Linked DNA regions of Homo sapiens: region 2 is linked to region 1. A link means that fine-mapping ties the variant in region 1 to the expression of a gene that starts in the linked region. Tissue or cell type: whole blood. Region 1 holds a variant in brackets; the other region holds the start of a gene. All regions are shown on one strand. Distances are from middle to middle.

Region 1 (7,844 bases):
ATTAAGCACAGTGGTTTAGGGCAAAGAGAGGGAGATCTGAAAATATGGCTGGGCGTGGTGGCTGACACCTGTGATCCCAGCACTCTAGGAGGCTGAGGTGGGTGGATCACAAGGTCAGGAGTTCGAGACTAGCCTGGCCAATGTGGTGAAACCCCATCTCCACTAAAAATACAAAAAATTAGCCAGGCATGGTGGCAGGTGCCTGTAATCCCAGCTACTCCGGAGGCTGAGGTAGGAGAATCGCTTGAAACCAGGAGGCAAAGGTTGCAGTGGGCCGAGATTGTGCCGATGCACGTCAGCCTGGGCGACAGAGCAAGACTCCACCTCAAAAAACAAGGGATGCTTCCAAAATGGCCGAATAGGAACAGCTCCAGTCTACAGCTCCCAGTGAGATCGACACAGAAGACAGGTGATTTCTGCATTTCCAACTGAGGTACCTAGTTCATCTCACTGGGACTTGCTGGACAGTGGGTGCAGCCCACGGAGGGCAAGCCGAAGCAGGGCGGGGTGTTGCCTCACCTGGGAAGCACAAGGGGTCGGGGGACTTCCCTTTCCAAGCCAAAGGAAGCCATGAGTGACTGTACCTGAAGGAGCAGTACACTCCTGCCCAAATACTGCACTTTTCCCACAGTCTTCACAACCAGCAGACCAGGAGATTCTCTCCTGTGCCTGGCTCAGCGGGTCCCACGCCCATGGGGCCTTGCTCACTGCTAGCGCAGCACTCTGAAATCGACCTGGGATGCAGGAGCTTGGCTGGGGGAGGGGTGTCCACCACTGCTGAGGCTAGAGTAGGTGGTTCTATGCTCACAGTGTAAACAAAGCAGCAGGGAAGCTCGAACTGGGCAGAGCCCACTGCAGCTCAGCAAGGCCTACTGCCTCTCTAGATTCCACCTCTGGGGGAAGGGCACATCTGAACAAAAGGCAGCAGACAGCTTCTCCAGATTTAAACATACGTGCCTGACAGCTCTGAAGAGAGCAGTGGTTCTCCCGGTACGGCATTCAAGCTCCGATAATGAACAGACTGCCTCAAGTGGGTCCCTGACCCCCATGTAGCCTGACTGGGAGACACCTCCCAGTAGGGGCCAACAAACACCTCATACAGGCAGACACCTTCGTGCTCTGGGACGATGTTTCCAGAGGAAGGATCAGGCAGCAATATTTGCTGTTCTGCAGCCTCTGCTGGTGATGCCCAGGCAAACAGGGCCTGGAGTGGACCTCCAGCAAACTCCAACAGACCTGCAGCTGAGGGGCCTGTCTGTTAGAAGGAAAACTAACAAACAGAAAGGAATAGCATCAACATCAACAAAAAGGACACCCACACCAAAACCCCATCCGTAGGTCACCAACATCAAAGACCAAAGGTAGATAAAACCACAATGATGGGGAGAAACCATAGCAGAAAGGCTGAAAATTCCAAAAACCAGAACACCTCTTCTCCTCCAAAGGATCACAACTCCTCACCAGCAAGGGAACAAAACTGGATGGAGAATGAGTTTGATGAATTGACAGAAGTAGGCTTCAGAAGGTCGGTAATAACAAACTTCTCCGAGCTAAAGGAGCATGTTCTAACCCATCACAAGGAAGCTAAAAACCTTGAAAAAAATGTTAGACTAATGGCTAGAATAACCAGTGTAGAGAAGAGCTTAAATGACCTGATGGAGCTAAAAACCACAGAACGAGAATTTTGTGAAGTATACACAAGCTTCGACAGCCGATTCAATCAAGCAGAAGAAAGGATATCAGTGATTGAAGATCAAATTAATGAAATAAAGCGAGAAGACAAGATTAGAGAAAAAAGAGTGAAAAGAAATGAACCAAGCCTCCAAGAAATATGGGACTATGTGAAAAGACCAAATCTACGTTTGATTGGTGTACCTGAAAGTGATGGGGAGAATAGAACCAAGTTAGAAAACACTCTTCAGGATATTATCCAGGAGAACTTCCCCAACCTAGCAAGGCAGACCAACATTCAAATTCAGGAAATACAGAGAACACCACAAAGATACTCCTCGAGAAGAGCAACCCCAAGACACATAATCATCAGATCCACCAAGATTGAAATGAAGGAAAGGGCAGCCAGAGAGAAAGGTCGGGTTACCCACAAAGGGAAGCCCATCAGACTAACAGCAGATCTCTCTGCAGAAATCCTACAAGCCAGAAAAGAGTGGGAGCCAATATTCAACATTCTTTAAAAAAAGTATTTTCAACCCAGAATTTCATATCCAGCCAAACTAAGCTTCATAAGTGAACGAGAAATAAAATCCTTTACAGACAAGCAAATGCAGAGATTTTGTCACCACCAGGCCTGCCTTACAAGAGCTCCTGAAGGAAGCACTAAACATGGAAAGGAACAACCAGTACCAGCCACTGCAAAAACATGCCAAATTGTAAAGACTACTGACGCTATGAAGAAACTGCATCAGTTAACGGGCAAAATAACCAACTAGGATCATAATGACAGGATCAAATTCACACATAGCAATATTAACCTTAAATGTAAATGGGCTAAATGCCCCAATTAAAAGACACAGACTGGCAAATTGGATAAAGAGTCAAGACCCATTGGTGTGCTGTATTCAGGAGACCCATCTCACATGCAAAGACACTCATTGGCTCAAAATAAAGGGATGGAGGAAGATCTAACAAGCAAATGGAAAGCAAAAAAAAAGCAGGGATTGCAATCCTAGTCTCTGATAAAACAGACTTTAAATCAACAAAGTTCAAAGGAGACAAAGAAGGCCATTACATAATGGTAAAGGGATCAATTCAACAAGAAGAGCTAACTATCCTAAATATACACGCCCCCAATACAGGAGCACCCAGATTCATGAAGCAAGTTCTTAGAGACCTACAAAGAGACTCCCACCCGGTAATAGTGGGAGACTTTAACACCCCACTGTCAATATTAGGCAGATCAATGAGCCAGAAAATTAACAAGGATATCCAGGACTTGAACTCAGCACTGGACCAAGCGGACCTAATAGACATCTACAGAACTCTGCACCCCAAATCAACAGAACATACATTCTTCTCAGCACCACATTGCACTTATTCTAAAACTGACCACATAGTTGGAAGTAAAACACTCCTCAGCAAATGTAAAAGAACAGAAATCACAACAAACTGTCTGTCAGACCACAGTGCAATCAAATTAGAACTCAGGATTGAGAATCTCACTCAAAACCACACAACTACA[T/G]GGAAACTGAACAACCTGCTCTTGAATGACTACTGGGTAAATAACGAAATGAAGGCAGAAATAAAAATTTTCTTGGAAACCAATGAGAACGAAGACACAACATACCAGAATCTCTGGGACACATTTAAAGCAGTGTGTAGAGGGAAATTTATAGCACTAAATGCCCACAAGAGAAAGCAGAAAAGATCTAAAATTAACACCCTAACATCACAATTAAAAGAACTAGAAAAGCAAGAGCAAACAAATTCAAAAGCTAGCAGAAGACAAAAAATAACTAAGATCAGAGCAGAACTGAAGGAGATAGAGACACGAAAAAAAACCCTCCAAAAAAAATCAATGAATCCAGGTGCTGGTTTTTTGAAAAGATCAATAAAATAGGTAGACCGCTAGCAAGACTAATAAAGAAGAAAAGAGAGAAGAATCAAATAGACTCAATAAAAACGATAAAGGGGATATCACCACCGATCCCACAGAAATACAAACTACCATCAGAGAATACTATAAACATCTCTACCCAAATAAACTAGAAAATCTAGAAGAAATGGATAAATTCCTGGACACATACACCCTCCCAAGACTAAACCAGAAAAAAGCTGAATCTCTGAATAGACTGATAACAGGTTCTAAACTTGAGGCAATAGTTAATAGCCTACTAACCAAAAAAAGTCCAGGATGGATTCACAGCCGAATTCTACCAGAGGTACAAAGAGGAGATGGTACCATTCCTTCTGAAACTATTCCAATCAATAGAAAAAGAGAGAATCCTCCCTAACTCATTTTATGAGGCCAGCATCATCCTGATACCAAAGCCTGGCAGAGACACAACAAAAAAAGAGAATTTTAGGCCAATATCCCTGATGAACATCGATGTGAAAATCCTCAATAAAATACTGGCAAACTGAATCCAGCAGCACATCAAAAAGCTTATCCACCACAATCAAGTCAGCTTCATCCCTGGAATGCAAGGCTGGTTCAACATACGCAAATCAATAAACGTAATCCATCACATAAACAGAACCAACAACAAAAACCATATGATTATCTCAACAGATGCAGAAAAGGCCTTTGACAAAATTCAACAGCCTTTCATGCTAAAAACTCTCAATAAACTAGGTATCGATGGAACGTATCTCAACATAGTAAGAGCTATTTATGACAAACCCACAGCTAATATCATACTGAATGGGCAAAAACTGGAAGCATTCCCTTCGAAAACCGGCACAAGACAAGGATGCCCTCTCTCACCACTCCTATTCAACATAGTATTGGAAGTTCTGGCCAGCGCAATCAGGCAAGAGAAAGCAATAAAGGGTATTCAAATAGGAAGAGAGGAAGTAAAACTGTCCCTGTTTGCAGATGACATGATTGTATATTTAGAAAACCCTATTGGTTCAGCTCAAAATCTCCTTAAGCTGATTAGCAACTTCAGCAAAGTCTCAGGATACAAAATCAATGTGCAAAAATCACAAGCATTCCTATACACCAATAACAGACAAACAGAGAGCCAAATCATGAGTGAACTCCCATTCACAAATGCTACTAAGGGAATGAAACACCTAGGAAGACAACTTACAAGGGATGTGAAGGACCTCTTCAAGGAGAACTACAAACCACTGCTCAAGGAAATAAGAGAGGACACAAACAAATAGAAAAACATTCCATGTTCATGGATAGGACGAATCAATATCGTGAAAATGGCCTTGCTGCCCAAAGTAATTTATAGATTCAATGCTATCCCCCCATCAAGCTATCACTGACTTTCTTCACAGAATTGGAAAAAACTATTTTAAACTTCATATGGAACCAAAAAAGAGCCTGCATAGCCAAGACAATCCTGGGCTAGAAGAACAAAGCTGGAGGCATCACACTACCTGACTTCAAACTATACTACAACACTACAGTAACCAAAACTGCATGGTACTGGTACCAAAACAGATATATAGACCAATGGAACAGAACAGAGGCCTCAGAAATACCACCACACATCTACAATCATCTGATCTTTGACAAACCTGACACACATAAGCAATGGGGAAAAGATTCCCTATTTAATAAATGGTGTTGGGAAAACTGGCTAGCCACATGCAGAAAACTGAAACTGGACCCCTTCCTTATACCTTACACAAAAATCAACTCAAGATGGATCAAAGACTTAAACATAAGACCTAGGACCATAAAAATCCTAGAAGAAAACCTGGGCCATAACATTCAGGACATAGGCATAGGCAAAGACTTCATGTCTAAAACACCAAAAGCAATGGCAACAAAAGCCAAAATTGACAAACGGGATCTAATTAAACTAAAGAGCTTCTGCATAGCAAAAGAAACTATCATCAGAGTGAACAGGCAACCTACAGAATGGGATAAAATTTTTGCAATCTACCCATCTGACAAAAGATTAACATCCAGAATCTACAAAGAACTTAAACAAATTTACGAAAAAAAAGCAAACAACCCCATCAAAAAATGGACAAAGGATATGAACAGACACTTCGCAAAAGAAGACATTTATGCAGCCAACAGACATACGAAAAAATGCTCATCACCACTGGTCATTAGAGAAATGCAGATCAAAATCACAATGAGATACCATCTCACGCCAGTTAGGATGGCGATCGTTAAAAAGTCACGAAACAACAGATGCTGGAGAGGTTGTGGAAAAATAGGAACACTTTTACACTGTTGGTGGGAGTGTAAATTAGTTCAACTATTGTGGAAGACAGTCTGGCGATTCCTCAAAGGTCTAGAACTAGAAATACCATTTGACCCAGCAATCCCATTACTGGGCATATACCCAAAGGATTATAAATCATTCTACGATAAAGACACATGCACATGTATGTTTATTGTGGCACTAGTCACAATAGCAAAGACTTGGAACCAACCCGAATGTCCATCAATGATAGACTGGATTAAGAAAATGTGGCACATATACACCATGGAATACTATACAGCCATAAAAAAGGATGAGTTCATGTCCTTTGCAGGCACATGGATGATGCTGGAAACCATCATTCTCAGCAAACTATCACAAGATCAGAAAACCAAACACCGCATGTTCTCACTCACAAGTGGAAATTGAACAATGAGAACACATGGGCACAGGGAGGAGAACATCACACACCGGGGCCCATGGGGAGTGAGGGGACTGGGGGAGGGATAACATTAGGAGAAATACCTAATGTAGGTGATGGGTTGATGGGTGCAGCAAACCATCATGGCACGTGTATACCTATGTAACAAAACTGCACATTCTGCACATGTAACCCAGAACTTAAAGTATAATAAATAAATAAACAAATATAAATAAAACTGAAATTAGCCACCAAAAAAAAGAAAAAGAAAATCTACGAGACTTTTAACTCAGGCTCTGCCGCTGACTTTCTGTGAGATAAGTCAGAGACTATCTGTGTCAGAGAATATGACTGTCAACCCCAGCTCTGTTACTTCCTCAGGCACAAAAGAGCAAGTCACACCTCCCGCCCCGCCCCCTTACCCGTCTGTTTTGCCCCTTTCCACTTGAAAAGGTCAAGTTAAGAAATAAAGGACTCTACAAACACATTTTGAAACCCACTGATTTTCCAAACTAAACTGGGTCTAAGCTAATACATGATAACAGACAAAAATAGAATACAAATAGAAACTTCCCCCTAAACTTCATGGCTAAGGCAGAGTCAGACTTGGGTCCTGTGACGCAAGCACGTGGGGCAGGGAGGAGTCTCCCGGAGGCACCCTGGAGAACCAGGCTCCATCCTAGATGAACTCAGCCCAGAAGACGCACATCAAGTGTGCCAGCCACAACCCAAGGAGAAAAAACAAGACACAAACCTTCCCAATGTCCTGCAGTGTGGCCAGCTCTAGTATCTGAGAAAGAACATCCAAGGCTGAGCGGAGAAACCCTCCAAACTTTTCCGTGCTGTTCTGAAGATCCAGCGTGACCTTGGGAAGGTGAAGGAGAGAACACACGGTTACTGGCCCTGTCACGATCTCATAATGTACAACCAAAGACACAAACATCGACGGCTGCAGCAGATGCCTCCACTGTGCGGCGCCGTACACTCACCTTGCAGGGTGTGTCTGCGTGTTTGTTGTCAGCACTGGAAAAATATTTTGGAAAGAAATTCCTTTCAGATAGCTATACAAAAACTACTCTTTCAAAGGCTTTCAGGTTACACTGGCGCTACTGGAAGAAATAATTCCTAACTTTCTTTCATAATGAGAAAAAAGGGTTAAATGTCCATCATAATCAGTATCTGGTATGTGGTATATCAAAAAATAGAAAATACTAAGTCCTATTCCTTATACACTAGGATCCCTGGGAGAAATCACTGTCAAATTCACATAGGGTTGGTTCAATTTGGATACAATAAAATATTAAATCAGGTGTAAGATGTGTTAAGATTCTAAAGGATTTCATGTAATTAAATTATACAGCAATTCTATTTTACAGACTCAGAGAATGGGTCAGGACCAAAGACATGCATAACAAGAAAGGTAAGGCGAGACTGACTAGGAAAATAAATATTGGTAAAACACTGCCTCAGAAAAGAAGGTGCTCAGTGAACATAAATCTAAGAACCCTTGTGAAAGAGAAGCTTTCTCTGGGCGAAGTCAGAAGCAGGCAAGAGACAGACACAGAAACTGAAAA
Region 2 (7,844 bases), 86 kb before region 1:
CCTGAACTTAAGGGACAGTAAGCTGGAGGAGCTGTCGGAGCGATCATCCTCGAAGCGGCCTTCGTAGGAGCACTGGTTATACGGGAAGTACAGAGGGGTGGACTTAGCGGGCGGCGACAGGGACGCCTCGGTCTGGGACGTGGAGGGCCCCGGCGGCTGGCTGTCCGGCAGTTTGCCATCACAGGACTCGGGGACCTTGGCCAGAATCCCATCAATGGCTAGGTAATAGGGCCAGTCGGGCGGGGCGGACTCGCTATCTGTCATGCATTTTAATTTCCTGAAACGAGAGACACAAGAGCCAAGGGTGAGAAACAGAGCTGGCCCAGCCCCTGTCCTGCCCAGCCTCAGCAGAGGGGCGCGCCACGCCGGCACAGGCAGGAGCCGCTCTCGGCTGGCAAGGGCCTCCCCAGCAAAATCGGCCAGGCTCCAGGGTCAAGATGACAATGGACTTAGAAAGAAGCTGGGCTTCAGGACCTACACGGGCTCAGATGTTAAAAAGGAAGCACACGTCCCAGTATTACTAAGGTTATCTGTGCATGCTGGGACCTTGGGGCTGGTCCTATTGCTTTTCCCTTGCTTTTCTATAGTTTCTAGACTCTCTGCAATGAGCAAATACTGCTTTTTAAATAATTCATTTTGAAAGGTAGAGTAATAAGGTTTTATTGTAATAATAAGGTATTATAAGATATATAAATATAGTGATAATATTTTGTAATATAATAACTGTGTTGTTCGGGAGAGAATGCCTCAGGGAGCGACAGCCACTGGCGTTAGAGCACAGGCTTCAGTGTCCACAGCCCTGAGTCAGTATCTCATCTCCACACTTTGCTGTGTGACTTTGGGCAGGTTCATTCACCTCTCTGAGCCTCTATTTTTATATCAATGACATAGTGATGATCAAAGTAAGCCCCTCCCCCAGCTACAGGGCAGATTTAATAAAGCAAACAGCAGGCTGGGCTCCCATGCCATTCTTGGTTGAACCTACAGTCTGGGCAGGAGCCTAGATCCAGCGCTACAACCTGCAACCTGCCCAGAGGCCCTGGGGTGGGCCGGATGGGCCCCTTCCCACACTGCCTGATGCCTCATTACCACTGGGACCCCCAGCACCCACCTACTCCTGCAGACAGGTCCTGCCCTGAGAGGCTAAGTCCCCAGGCCTCCCCTGGGCCTCGGCTGCCCTCTGGGAGGTCAAGGCAGGAGACACAGGGCCCCATGGCGGCCAGACAGCTCTGGCCAGGCCAGGGAAGAAGCCACAAGGTGGGGGTGGGGCAGGGGCATCTCTGCCTCACTGGACCCAGTACCTCCTAAGGCCCAGTGCCCACTCCCCACTCTGCCTTTGAGTGACAGAGTGCCCCAAGGCCGGGCTCCAAACCCAACCTGTGCTCGGAGTGGGTGTCTCCTCTCTCCTACTCTTGCTACCTGCCAGGGTGTGGCCATTGGCCGTTGGAAACAATAAGCTGGATTCTGAATGAGGTGCCCCCAGCAAACAGGCACAGCCAGATGGTGAGCAGGGGATGCTGCCCAGGGTGGCACGTGGCTGTGAAGACACCAGCACAGAGCGTGTGAGGGCAGGCGCTGGGTGCCCATCCCTAACCTCTGCCCCAGGCTTCTCTCTCTGCCCTACTTGAGCCAGCCCACTCTTTGGAGAAACGAGAAAAGGCCTATTCTCAGTGTAGGAGGCCCCCAAACTGTACTTCAACAAACCATGCTCCACAGAACCAGCCACCCTCTCAGGCTTCTTCAGCCCAACAGCCTTAATATATAAAGAGTTCTTGTAAAAAAAAAAAAAAGAAAAAGAAAAAAAAAAGAAAAGCCTCTGCTATGGGGAGACTGCGGGTATAAAGAAAAAGGACAAAGATCGAGTCACCCAGCCACAGCTTCCTCTGCTAAGGACTATGTGGCCCTGGGCAAGTCCCTCTCATGCTCTGGGCCTCAGCTTCCCCCTCGGTGAACTAAGGCTGACTGTGGCAGCTCTGAGGGGCTGCGGTGTGGAAGTGCTTCATCAGCCATGACGTGCAGTGCACCGGTGCAGCCCTTGGCCAGCCCAGACTGCAGGGTCTGGAGTGGAGGCCCCCACTCTGCTGCACCCTCATCTCTCAGCCTCCAGGAATGGAGACAGAAACCCTCCCCTGGGACTCTGAAGAGGCTTTCAGCATAAATAATGAATAACCTGGCCAGACACCAACCAGAGCCAGCCAGGGAGGTGGTGCCCGTGAATTCCTGAGTCAGAGGGGAGCCTGCTGGAACAGTCGTGGCCACCTCCCACTGCCCTCTGCGTCCCTTCCTCACCAGGTGCCTGAGCAGGACTAGGAGGCCACGGGAACAGTGGGGCCGCGGGCAGCTGCCTGTGTCCACCGAACCTCTGAAGATACCCAGGCTCACACCTCAGCCCTCACGTCGCAAGCCAGCCGCTCAAACCCAACATCCGTCATGCTCAGCACCCTAGGTCCCGGCTTTGGGGCCTGCCTAGGGGCCTTTGGGCAGGGCCAGGCCCCGGACCCCTCCTTCAAGGCTCAGAAAAAATCAAATCAACGCAACTGAAAGCGGAGACCTCACAGGCTGGCGGTCTGTCCGGGGCCTTGCTGGGCCTCTTCCCCACTCCCACTAGGGCTGGGGACTGGGGGTTCCCTTCTGCTGTGCTGGAGGCCGGCTCCTCGCCTGAGGGGGGCAGTGGGGGTGGCCTCTCCCACAAGTGGCTCAGGTGCTCTCAGCCTCTCTGCCCCAGGCTCACCTGCCTGACCCGGAGGTGGAGCAGCTGAGTGAGGCCACTCCCATCCTGGAAGCTGACAGGCTCTCCGGCAGCCCCAGGCCCAGCCCTGTCCAGGCCGCCCACAGGGCCGGGTGCTCTCTGCTGCCATTCTCCCCCTGCAGCTTCCAGCTCTTGCTGCCACCCTCGCTCCGTGCAAGACCCTCCCCACACCCAAAACCATCACCCCACACCTGTGACCTTCACCGCACACCTATGACCTTCACACCCTGCAAGACCCTCACCGCACCTGTGACCTTGCCTGTGCCTGAGACCTTCACCCCACCATGACCCCTGCCCACCCGGGACCCTGTCCTAATGGGCTGGGGACCCACGCACTTTAAGATGCTGGGTGTGTGGGACCACACCTGTCCCCTCCTAGACGCCAACATCTCCCTGGCTGGGTGGTCCCCTCCGGCCTTCCCTGCAGGTTGCCAGGGCAGGAAGGGCCCACCTGCCATGTAGCAGGAGCAGAGGTGGGGCCAGGCCGGGAGCCCCCACGCTGGGAGTCCTGGGCCAGGGCAGGCCTCCACCTCTTTCTTCTTCGCACCGTAAGCCCCACCCATGCGCTGGCTGGTCCTGCACCTCACCTGGTGATTTCTGGAAATACCCCACCGTGACCCTAGGGCCAGCCCCAGTGGGGCTCACCGGCTCATGGCAGAGGCTCAGTGGATGCTCCAAGTCGCAGAGCACTGAGCCTCCTTCTCACTTGCAGTCTCAATTTCCCCAATGACGCAGTAGGCCCCTGAAACCCCTGCTGAGCTTGGGAGCTTGGTGGTGGGGAGGGCACTGGCAGCCGCCGCCTCCCTATGGGGGAGCAGGGTGTGAGGTCAGTGGGCACCACCATGAGTGTTGCTGCCTCCGAGGGACAGTGCCCAGACCGCCCATACGTCCTGGGAGCCATCCTGGCCTCTGCCCAGCACCAGCCCCACCCCTGCTACCCCTCAGCTCTTAGACTGGTTTCCTGCCCTTGCTGGGCCTCAGTTTCCCCACTTCCCCAATGGAAGGCTGCACACACGGTTTCCGTGGGCCCCGTCTCACCCCGTGGGGTTCTGCCCATACCCGGCCAGAGGAGACCGACAGGCAGGCCACGACCCACACATCGTCCCGACTCAGAGCTCCAAGAAAGTCAGGAGCGGCCCGCCACGCCCGGGCCCGCCCGTCCTGGTGGGGCCCACACTGCCCGCTCGCCCACCTGTACTGGAAGGTCATGTTGGTGATCTTGATCTTGATCTCCTCGCCCAGCCTGCGCTCGCCGGTCATCTCGAAGAGCTTGCTGGCCATCTTCTCGTACACCTTGGCGTTGCGCTTGGTCTGCTTGAGCTCGTCGAAGAACTCCTCCCAGACCAGCATGAGGCCGCGCATCTCGGCGTCCGTCCAGTTGCGGGCCCGCCGGTGCTTCTCCGCCTGGGGAGACACGAGGTAGCCGGGCCCCTCGGCCGCCGCCATGCCGGAGGCGCCTGTGGGGTGAGAGAGCGCGCTCAGCGAGGGCCCCGGCCCGGCCCCACGCACCATGGGCGGGAGGCGCCGCTCACGCTCGCTCGAAGGCAGCTCCACGCTCAAAATGGGGCCTACATCTGACAGGCAGGAATTTAGTTAAAAGCTTTTAAACGGGAAACGTCATTTTGATGTCACGTTTCCATAGCAACAGAGCAACTGCATAAGCTACAACAACAGAAACCTTTTAACTGAAAGCACAGGAATCAGGGCTGCACTGACGGGCCATCAATATTGCGGCGAGCGGGCCAGGCCCAAACCCAGCGGCCCGGCTCCCGGCCCTGCCTCTCACCGCCGCCCAGGCGGATCGGCCCCCAGTTCAGTGCCGCCCCGGCTCACGCAGGCCAAGAGGGGGCCTCGGGTGGGAACAGGCAAGGAGAAAGGGGGCAAAAGGTGGGAGAAACAGAGAGGACGAGCGACGAGGAGGCTGAGTCCCCCAACGCTGGCCACTGGCCCTGGTGGGGGTCCTGGGCTGTGGGACCCTTAAGCTCCCTCAGAAGGCCCCTGCCTTCTGAACTGGGGCTGGGCCCTGGGGCTCCTGGGTGTCCTGGTCCTGGGGTCCTGGGGCTGGGCCCTCACAAGAACCCCAAACCCCCACCCTTGGCTCCTTTTGCTTCTCTTGCTCCAGCCCCCAGGCGCCCTGGGCCTTAGGTCTGTGGACACTGGAAGCCCGGGTTGGTCAGAGCCAGGCCCTGCCCAGAGGTGCAGACACAGGGTACACAGACACGGGCCTCTGGCACCGGCCGGTGAGGACAGCAGTGATGGCAAAGGTGAGCTCTGTTTGAGACACAGGAGGGAATCAGCCCAGCAAGCCAGGGGGAGGCCACAGGGCACTCCTGGGAAGAGCCACGGGCATGGCAGGGCACAGTCTGGGTACGCAGGGAGCTGATGGGCAGCCAGATTCGGCACAGCGTGCGGAGACGGGGCTCGAGGCCCAGGCTGCGGGGCAGGCCCCTGTGGGGCTGAGGGACTGAGATGCCCCCAGGCTGGCCGGAGGACCACAGCCTGCCGAGAGCCCCAGATGCAGCGGAACCGGAACCGGAGCGGTGGCCTGGGGGTTCTGCCCGGAGAAGTGCCGCCCAAGGGCATCGGCACCCGAAACGTAACACATGCATGTCAGGCAGGGCTCTGTGGAGCCCACGGCACCTGTGCAGCATGGACTGTGCTGGGCGCGGTGCCCAGGCTAAATGCCACTGTGGTCAGCAGAGGGACAGCAGGCACCCCCCTGCCCTCCTCAGGCCTGACCAACTGCAGGAGACTCTCAGGTGTGGGCTGCCCCAAGAAGGGCAGCTGAGCCTGGAATGAGGAGGCATCTCGGCCTCTGCCCGCTGCCCCTGCTGTCCTCTGAGGCACCTTGGAGGTGGGACCGAGGCTCTCAGGGGAAGGACAGGGCAGGGGCATGGCGGGGGTGCCCAGCCCCACTGTGGGTGCCCAGCATAGGGAAGGCGAACTGGGGCTCCCTCTTGCCCGCAGTCAGGATAGGAAGTGTATGGGGAGGGCCCCAGGGATGTGTGAGGAACTCAGAGGGGTCTCTGCACCCCCTACACTGGGTCCCTGGTCAAGGCCTGGCCCCACCATCAGCCCCATGAGACTAGTCCAGTCCCTTCCATCTGGGCCTCAGGAGACATCATCCCTACTGCCTGGCACTGGGGCATCTCCACTCGACTAAGGTCAGCCCTCCGTGCTGGGGGCTGGCACAGAGAGCTCTGTGGAGTGCCTGCAGATGAAGGAGTGACTAGAAGGCCTACCTCCTCTAGGAAGCCCTGGCTCCTCAGGAACAGGGTTCGGCCCTCCCCGGTGAGGTCAGGGACCGGTCCGAATGCCCTTTCCGTAGCCATGACTCCAAGGGCAGAGGTGGGGCTGGCTCCCAGCATCTCTTGGCATCTCCCGGCACAAGGGGTAAGCAGAAAGGCATGGGGTCCCAGCAGTGGTTCTGGGTGCAGCTCTAGCGACTCAGCATGGACCTTAGTCATGTCCTCCCCACTAACCTGTTTCCTCACCTCCACAACAGGGGTAACAGGATCTGACTATATCACCCAGCATGGTGCTGGCTAAGGGGGCACAGCCCTCCCAGAACCCTGGGGAGGTCATGGGGCCTCTACGTGCCCTCTACCCCCTTCCACAAATCCACCTTGGAGCTGCTGGGGACAGCGTCAGGCCTACTGTCCTGGCTGAAGGGGCAGCTGCTGGCCAGTGGACACCACCACCACTGCCGGGGGCCCCCACCGGACGGCTCTAGAGGAGGCACCTACACCCCTGCCTGCCCGAGTTCCAGTGGGCGCAGGGAGGCAGGGCCCTGCCTGGCAGGGTGCCACCCCACACCCGCACCATCCTCCAGGCAGCATTCCCAGGGTAAAAGGCTCAACTCCAACCCTCTCTTCCCAGGCTCAGTGCACATGGGAGGCCCTGGACAGGGCAAGCTCCATGGCCTTTCCCGAGGCAGAGCCCTCACACTGACCTCCAATGTGAGGACAAGAACCAGGCAGGCAGCAGATGGCAGCACCAGGCACCCAGCTGCTCCTGCCTGGGAGGGTCCCCACATCTGTCCCCTGCTGGGGAGGGGCTCGTACCTTGGCAAAGCTGCATGGCCTGCTGGGACCCTCAGTCGCTACGGGGTCTCCTAGGGCCAGAGGCTGGTCAACCAGCAGCACCTGAGGGAGAAGGGGCAGGTCAGGCCTCGGCAGGAGCTGTCCCTGGTGCAGACCTGGGACATGGGCGGGGCCCTGCTGGGCTCAGGCTAGAAGCATGCTCCCTAGGCCTCCATCCCTTCTAAATAATGAGGCTGGGCCCAACTAGACTCTCATCCTGCTCAGCATTTCTGGGTGGATTTTCTGCCCTGCCTGACAGGCCAGCAGGACATGGGGACTGACCAAGGGTGGGGGCAGCAGGGCTCCCAAACACAGAAGCCCAGAGAGGAGGTGGGCGTCCCACTGAGGGGCACCTTCCAGGAGCAGCAGTGGTGAGCACAGCCTGTGCAGATGGGTGGGGATTTGGCAGCTGAGGAGTTCAGGGCTTGGGTGAAGGCAGAGAACCACGTGGAGTCCTGGGCCCAAATCACGGGGGGCCCCTGGGCAGGCTCCGGAGCCTGGACTTCCCCAGAGCAATTGGGGCCAGGAGGGGAAGGATGTGGCCAACACTGCCGCCGCTGGGGCAGGGTAGAAGGTTGGGCGGGTGGGCTGTCCAGAGGGTACAGGGGCCAGGATCCACCTCAGGACCAGCCTGTCCTAGCAGTTTTGGGGGTAGCTGCCTGACCAAGCATGGAGGGCAGGGGCCTGTGCACACAAGGGGAACCCAGACCCACAACTTCAGCCCTCTGCCTCCAGTGATGCCCTGACCCTGACCTCACAGGTCCACAGGGCCCACCCAGGGCCCAGACACCCCCGACCAGGACACCTGGAGGCCTGGTGTAGGGTGGAGAAAGCCGGCCACACTGGCGGGCCCCCCCAGAGGATGTGGCTGCAACAGGACTGGGTCCTCTGTGGCTCAAGCCACTTGCCCAAAAGGCAGCCAGGCTGCTGGGGCTGCAGAGCCTGGGGGACCCGCAAGCGATGTCCACATGGTTTCCCAAAAGAGGTCCTGGTGATGACACAAGGCCGGGTCC

Evidence for each region. PIP is the estimated chance that this variant, and not a neighbour inherited with it, causes the effect.
Region 2: it holds the start of MSANTD1, and the variant in region 1 is fine-mapped to the expression of MSANTD1 in whole blood (TOPMed, PIP 0.94).

Annotation. Positions count from the first base shown.
Region 1 is chr4:3,159,573-3,167,416 of GRCh38, reverse strand. HTT (huntingtin) reads right to left here. Exons shown (of 67, transcript NM_001388492.1): 29 at 7,025-7,135. Among named protein-coding and RNA genes, the nearest start is that of MSANTD1, 86 kb to the left of the region's middle. The variant T/G (reference allele first, on the strand shown) is at 3,197.
Region 2 is chr4:3,245,640-3,253,483 of GRCh38, reverse strand. It overlaps MSANTD1 (Myb/SANT DNA binding domain containing 1), which reads right to left and starts at 4,325. Exons shown (of 3, transcript NM_001042690.2): 1 at 3,942-4,325; 2 at 2-277. The coding sequence starts at 4,261. RefSeq lists an enhancer at 1,911-2,807 and a silencer at 6,772-6,947.